2 linked regions of the Homo sapiens genome follow. The protein of the gene in region 1 purifies or fractionates together with the protein of each later gene. This does not show direct contact. Each region holds a gene or a part of one and is shown on either strand. Other genes may lie near its edges.

What was found. The genes of interacting proteins can lie anywhere in the genome.
Region 2: the proteins of BTBD9 (region 1) and LTO1 purify together in Homo sapiens (co-immunoprecipitation; one large-scale study listed by IntAct). This does not show direct contact.

What each region holds. Positions count from the first base shown.
Region 1 is NC_000006.12:38,591,430-38,594,929, forward strand, and holds part of BTBD9 (BTB/POZ domain-containing protein 9), read right to left. Parts: intron 2,947-3,500; exon of another isoform or gene 2,907-2,946; coding exon of another isoform or gene 2,899-2,906; coding exon 2,535-2,898; intron 1,412-2,534; coding exon 1,147-1,411; intron 1-1,146.
Region 2 is NC_000011.10:69,665,354-69,668,853, reverse strand, and holds the end of LTO1 (protein LTO1 homolog), read left to right. Parts: intron 1-841; coding exon 842-959; intron 960-1,266; coding exon 1,267-1,335; 3' UTR 1,336-3,291; downstream 3,292-3,500. UniProt on the Homo sapiens protein: The complex LTO1:YAE1 functions as a target specific adapter that probably recruits apo-ABCE1 to the cytosolic iron-sulfur protein assembly (CIA) complex machinery. May be required for biogenesis of the large ribosomal subunit and initiation of translation.

The sequences.
Region 1 (3,500 bases):
TATAACATGTACTCCCTTGAATATTGTTGTATTTAACTTTTCATGGGAGTTTATGTCTTATTTCCACAATGAAATTAAAAGGATCAAAGGCAGAGACTATGTTTAACAATTATGCAGCATAGTTTAGTGGTTAATTACACAACTTCTGGAGCCAAACTACATAGGTTTGACTCTCAGCTCTGTCATCTTTCTGTGTGACCTTGGGCAAGTTACTTAACTTCTCTGTTTCAGTTTCCTCATTGTGTAAAATGGAGTCAATAACAGTATATACCTCAAAGAGTTGTGAGAATTAAATCGTGTAGGACCTGTTCTTGATACATACTATGCACTCTGTAAGTGTTAATTGCTATAAATCCATTAATAAGAAAAATCACCACTTAAGTGGTGATAAGTATCATAAGTGTTAGCTACCTTATGTATGTATGTTACATAAGTGTTAGCTATTATTATTGTTATTTAGAATCTCCATGTTCAGCCGGGCGTGGTGGCTCATGCCTGTAATCCCAGCACTTTCTGAGGCCAAGGCAGGTGGATCACCTGAGGTCAGGAGTTTGAGACCAGCCTGGCCAACATGGTGAAACCCCGTCTCTACTAAAAATAAAAATTAGCCGAGTGTGGTGGCGGGTGGCTGTAATCCCAGCTACTCAGGAGGCTGAGGCAGGAGAACCGCTTGAACCTGGGAGGCGAGGTTGCAGTGAGCCGAGATTGCAACTTCCATTCTAGCCTGGGCAACAAGAGTGAAACTCCATCTCAAAAAAAAAAAAAAGAATCTCCATGTTCATGGTACCCAAAATAATAAGTACATAGAATGTACTCAGTATTTATTTGATGGAGGAAGGAAGAAAAGGTCTTAACATGAGCAGCAGCTTTTTAGGAAAGTGTCCATTTCTGACATTCTGGGGAGGAGTTGAGAAATCTGTCCAGGAATGGCAAGAAATACCTATTTGGGGGTCTACAAAAGCTAATCAATCTCAGGAGGAATTAACAGGAAAATGAAAGGGAAAGACATTCCATAGGCTAGCTGTTTATAAACGTACATATTTCATGTACACCTGCACTACACGGTTCTGTAGTAGCTTTGCGGTTTTAATGGCATGAGAGGCATACCAAGCTTCTTGGTTGAGTTTAGGATAGACAGGTACTTACTGAGCATGCCTCTATAATTGAGGTCCATATCCCGGCTCTCAGATCGCACTTTAATGGCATCCAGGATGGCATCAGGAGACAGCAGTCCTGAAGGCCTCACAACATTCAGAAGCTCTGTGAGGCTCATGAGAGGTAAACGCACAGCCTGCATGATTTCAGCATGATTCTCCTTTGAATTGTGCTTACACCAGTTTAATAAGGCTAGGAAAATATCTTTTTCGGGAGCTGCAAATGAGTCTCTTAACACGATGTTTAAAAGTGCTGTCTGAAAAGGATAAAAAGGTAAAATTCCAGTTATATGAAGTTCAACCACTGCATGACCAATCAGTAAAAGCTTACAGGACAAGTATAACTTAGCCAATTAACTCTTTTTGACCCTCTCCTTCCCTTATGCTTTGTGCCACATATTCTCCTACTCATTATGGCTGTGTAAACAACCAAGACGGTAGCACCATTCTTTTATGTTCAGGTATCTTGTACCACTACATCAAACATTTAATCTTTCCAAACACATCTGCATTCATCTTTTTTAAAACAGCAAAAAGAAAAACGCCAAAGTGAAAAGCTGTCAATACATTCAGATTCTTCAAGAGAGTGTACATTGTTAAGTTAGAAAGACATATTTGGCATTTAAAATTCAAATTTTGTTCCACAGTATTACTTCACTACCATACTTTTGGCTCTCAGATCTCCAAACTGACCTCCAGGAACAATGTTGCAACCCTCAAAGATCATTGTCTTTAAAAATTAAGTAGAAAAAAATGAAATAGGATAACACAGATCTTAATTTACACTCAAATCAAGATATGTAGCTTTTCAATAGATTTTTCTCATTAGAAATATCCAGGTTCTAGAAGGAACACAACAAGGCAAATGGAGAGACAATCACTACCCAGAGTTCAAAGGAAGATTTGAGCAAAACAGTTTTACTCTAGCTATAATACTGAATTTTAAGCCAGCAAAAAAAGCAGGGACTTAAAGACATCAAATGTTGCATCAGATCTCCTCTATGAATTTGCCTGCTTGCTCTAAGGAATTATTAGTCACACTCTCTGTCAGAGAAAAACAAAACCAAAAGGTAGTATGCAATACCAAAAAGGACCCTATTTGATTGTCACTACCTTGAAAACAACCACACAGCAGCACAGTCTCTTTTGCACATAAAACTTACCTGAAGAACCTTAAAAGAAAACACAACCAACCAGCCCCTCTCTTTTATGATCTAGAGTCCTGGTAGCTAGATGCAAGTGGCTAGACCAGATAACCAATGATAACGCTTTGATACCAATGATTTTTTTTATTATTCTTAGTCCATTGCTATACTTCTACAGTATAGGTATAAATAAAACAATGCATGCCTATAAATTACTTGTAGACAAATGACACACCTTAGAAAGGGAGAGGAAACCTTCACTTGAGAGGACTTCCTGAGCATTCCTATCCATAAACATGCAGCACATACAAGTTAACTTGGGAAGTGAGTAGAGACTGGCAACATCAAAAGTCATGCAGACATTCTGAATGTTAAGTATGGTGCAGAGATACTCAGAGGTAGAATCCTCTAGCTCTGGAAATCCATATTTATGAGCCAGGCTCAAAAAGTCCAGCAGCACCTCCTCCTTCTCATCTGTCAGCGTTGCCCGCCCAGTGTAGATATATTTGAGTAGCATTGTGAATGCTTCTGCAGTGGTGTCTTGGAGAGGAATTTCTGCTTCAGGCTGAGACTCTCGCATTCCACCATATAATAATGCTCTGCACATCAGGGAAGAAACACATGAAGAAACCCTCAAATAGGATTTGCTACAAAATATTGGAAATAACAGTTATCAACATTATGCAAATATAAATTTTTTTAATGACACAAAGATCCAAGTGAAAAAATGCAAAGTAATCATTTAAAATGGTTCTTTACAGGACACAAGAGGAATGATTTTAAAACTATTTGAATTAATTCTGTAAGCCACTGAACTAATGAGATACTCTGAAAGCTCAAGATATGTGACAGATATTAAATAGAAAGATGAGAGTGATCTTTTGAGAGGCACAATGAAGTTGATATAAAGATGTTAAAGGTCAATAAGGCAATTTAAAAAGTAAAACTCTATAGGAAAAGATATAATCAGATAAACACTAATATGATGCCATTCTCCCCTGTAAGACTGGCAGAAATTAAAAGGCTTGTTAATATCAGTGCTGCAAAAGCAATGGAAAAACATGTTCTTTGATATGCTGCTTTGAGAGTATAAATGGCAGCCCTTTATGGAAAGTAATTTAGTAGCATCTAGTCAAATCTAAAATGTGCATACCCTTCAACTCAGTAATCTCTCTTTTAGGACTCAATTCTAGGGAAGTAA
Region 2 (3,500 bases), on another chromosome or scaffold:
GTTTCACCATATTGGTCAGGCTGGTCTCGAACTCCTGACCTCAGGTGATCCACCCTCCTCGGCCTCCCAAAGTGCTGGGATTACAGGCGTGAGCCACCGAGCCCGGCCCATGTCAGTTATTTAATCCTCTTGAAAGTCTGTGAGGTTGCTGTTACTCTCCCCATTAAAAAAAAAAAAACAAAACAGAAATTAATTTCTCACCATCTGGAGGCTGGGATGCCCCCCATTTTACAGATGAGGCCAGCAGGGTTGAAAGCAGGTAGAGAGGTGTTGGGGAGATGTCATGCCCAGGGCTGCTGTCTCCTGAGTGCACAGCCTTTCTGCAGAACCTCCTTGCCTCCCCAGCAAAGCTGTTTCCTCCCTGGGGAGGGGACAGTACTGATTTCCGCCTTTGGAGGGAGGGGTTTGCTGGTTTACCTGCAGCTGAACTTTGGAAGGCTTTGAGCACAAAGAATCCAGATCCTGGAAAATCCCCAGACCCAGAGCAGGCCTGCTCGTGCCCAGCCCCAGTCCCTCTTGCCCAGTTCTGTCTGTTTCTGCATGTGTGACCTCGAGAGTCAGCAGGGCTTCTGGCTGCCTCAGCCCCTTGGCCCCGTGGTCGGAATGGAGGCGTGTCTGTAAGCTAGGCACACACTTGCTGTCGAGGCACTGGGTATGGGCCTAAGCTCGTTGCTAGGTAAATAAATATGATTTCGTGTAATGAGAAAATAATCATCCAGCTTTTGAACGAAGGCATTCTTAGCGCACCTGCTGGGTTTCAGGAAGCCAGCAGCATAGCTGTTGTGTAAGTTGAGCCTGTTGTGTGCACATGACTGAGAGTCTGTATTTCTGTGCTTTACAGCAGAAAGATGAAGGTCTTAGAATCATTGATTGGAATGATCCAGAAATTCCCTTATGATGACCCTACTTACGATAAACTCCATGAAGACTTAGACAAGATCAGAGGAAAATTTAAACAGGTGCGTGCACTGTGTGTTTCCTCCTGCTAGGAGCACCTGATTGCGCCTTTCCCAGGCGGGGCAGCGCACTCCCGGGGCCGCTGCGGCAATGGCCTGGGGCTGCGTGCGCCGCGGAACTGTCCGTAGAGGCGCCTCATCCTTGAGTCGCAGTGCAGGAAAACTGAAGACAGTCCAGAGAAAAGGAGTTAGAACTCATTTATGGGCTGGCCACATAGACAGGAAAAGCTATAGCTAGAGATAGAGTTATCTTCTCATTTTTCAGTAAAAATGCACAAGATTAAAAATACCATCTCTTTTGTGTTTTCAGTTTTGTTCGTTACTCAATGTTCAGCCAGACTTTAAAATTAGTGCAGAAGGTTCCGGACTTTCATTTTGAGGAGGATGGATGAACAGAGACCGAACGTCGAGGAACAGATGTGTGTGTGACGTGTTTAGAAATGCGGTGAAGGGCCAGACGGTGCTGGGAAGGCAGTTGTTCATTGGGAGGGTGAGGGTTCCGGTTCGGCCGTGGGAGGGCTTCCTTCCCTGGGGTTTTCTGCCTGTGTCACCTTGGTGCCCGTCTTGGGGCCTCGCCACACATGCCCTTTGTTGGGCTGAAGCCGTCCCTGGCAGAGCCCTCGTGCATTGACTTGACAGCCTCTCCGGCAGCACAGGCCTAGCTGGTTCTGGGTTGGAGTTGGCTCTGGATAGGGTCAGTCACCAGGCCTGGACTGAAGGCAGTTATTTTTATTATTATTATTATTTGCAATGAGAGAGATGGTTGGCCCCGAATGAGGCTCATGGGAGGTTTGGACGGGTGCTGTGCCGCATGTCGAGGCCGATTGTGTGCCAGGCGGTGCGGGACGTGCCTCCCGTGTGTTATTTAATCCCTTCAGGAGCCCACAAGATGGGTGTTATTCTCATTTTACAGAGGAGGGAGGGGAGACGCGAAGGGATTGCCTGGTCTAAGGGCACCCAGCAGCAGAGCTAGGACTTCCGCCCTAAGGCTGTGCCTCACTGCCACCAGGCACAGCCGCCTCCGGAATGCACAGGCGAGTCCCTGCCCTCCCTCCCAGGCCGCACAGGTCCTGCCAAGCCTCACGGAGCACGGGGGAGTCTGTGGTGGCCAGTTTACCTGGGCATCTGGCTGAGAGGAAGAAAGGCCAACCTGATCCTGAGGGGACCCAGACATATCCTTTGCACTGTCCCTAGAGGGGCGATGAGCTTTGCAGCATTAAAAAATGGTGAAGGGGGGAAATATTTTGAACCAAAGACCAAATGTTAGGCCGCCGTTATATTTGCAGAAGCTTTGAGAACCATGCGTATAGCCTCCTGCATTCTCCCCTCTCCTAGGAGCTCTTTTGTCTCTGTCCTTACGAGGCGTCATACAGAGGCAGTGGGGTGGGCACAGATGAGCAGAGTGGATGGTTCGGTGGGTCCCCACGAGGCGAGTGGTGGTCATATGTGATGGCACGTGTTCACACACCCTCCTGTGTACCCCCCCAGGGTCACCGAAGTCCCCACACGCTGGCTCTCCACACCCCTCCTGTTCCAGAAAGCATGTCCGAAAGCAGTCCAGGAGATTATTAAGGGGTCGCCATGAATCCACTTTGGTTTTAAAACCATTCCCGAATGTCCTAGTGGATTGTGTTGTGCTGCCTAAGCTGCCGGCTGCAGGAGCCAGAGAAGTGACCCCCGCGGGAGCAGCGGCAGGTGGATCTCCACGGTGGCTCGCTTTGTTTTTGTTTTGTTTTTTCTTTTAAGACGGAGTCTCACTCTGTCGCCGAGTTTGGAGTGTATTGGCGCGATCTCGGCTCACTGTAACCTCCGCCTCCTGAATTCAAGTGATTCTCCTGCCTCAGCCTCCCTAGTAGCTGGGATTATAGGCGCCCCCCACCACGCCCAAGTAACTTTTGTATTTTTAGTAGAGATGGGGTTTTGCCTTGTTGGCCAGGCTGGTCTTGAACTCCCAGCCTGAAATGATCCACCCACGTCCACCTACCAAAGTGCTGGAATTGCAGGCATGAGCCACCACTCCCGGCCTGCTTTTTGTTTTTGAAGACAGGACTTAGGTCTCCTCCTCCCGAACTCTAAACCTGCGTGTGTGGCTGTGCACCGCTCGTTTGTAGCGTCACCTCAGGTCTGGGGAAGTCTGTGCTGGCATCTCCTCATTGTGCCTTCATCAGAGCTGGTGCCTTCGGGCCAGAAAGACTCTCGTTCTTTCTAGATGGTGGGATCAGGGGCCTTTGCTGTGTTTCCCTTGGTGGATTTTTGTGTTTTGTAAGTTGTCTATTTTGATAATGTATTATTTTTATAACTGTAAAAAAAGTAAATAGCATATTTTAAAGTGAAAGTTTGGGACCATTTATAACACAACGTCATTTATAACACGGCATCATTTATAACACAACATCCAGCCAGTTTATTTCTTCCTCCAGGGCATTTAGGATCTGGATATGAAGGAAGACATGGGCCTTAGATTTCTGCCAGCTTGTCTCCTTAACCTAGCGTAGACACAGCCACTGCGAGAGTGCTCCCATTGTGTTGGGGACTGGTCAGCTC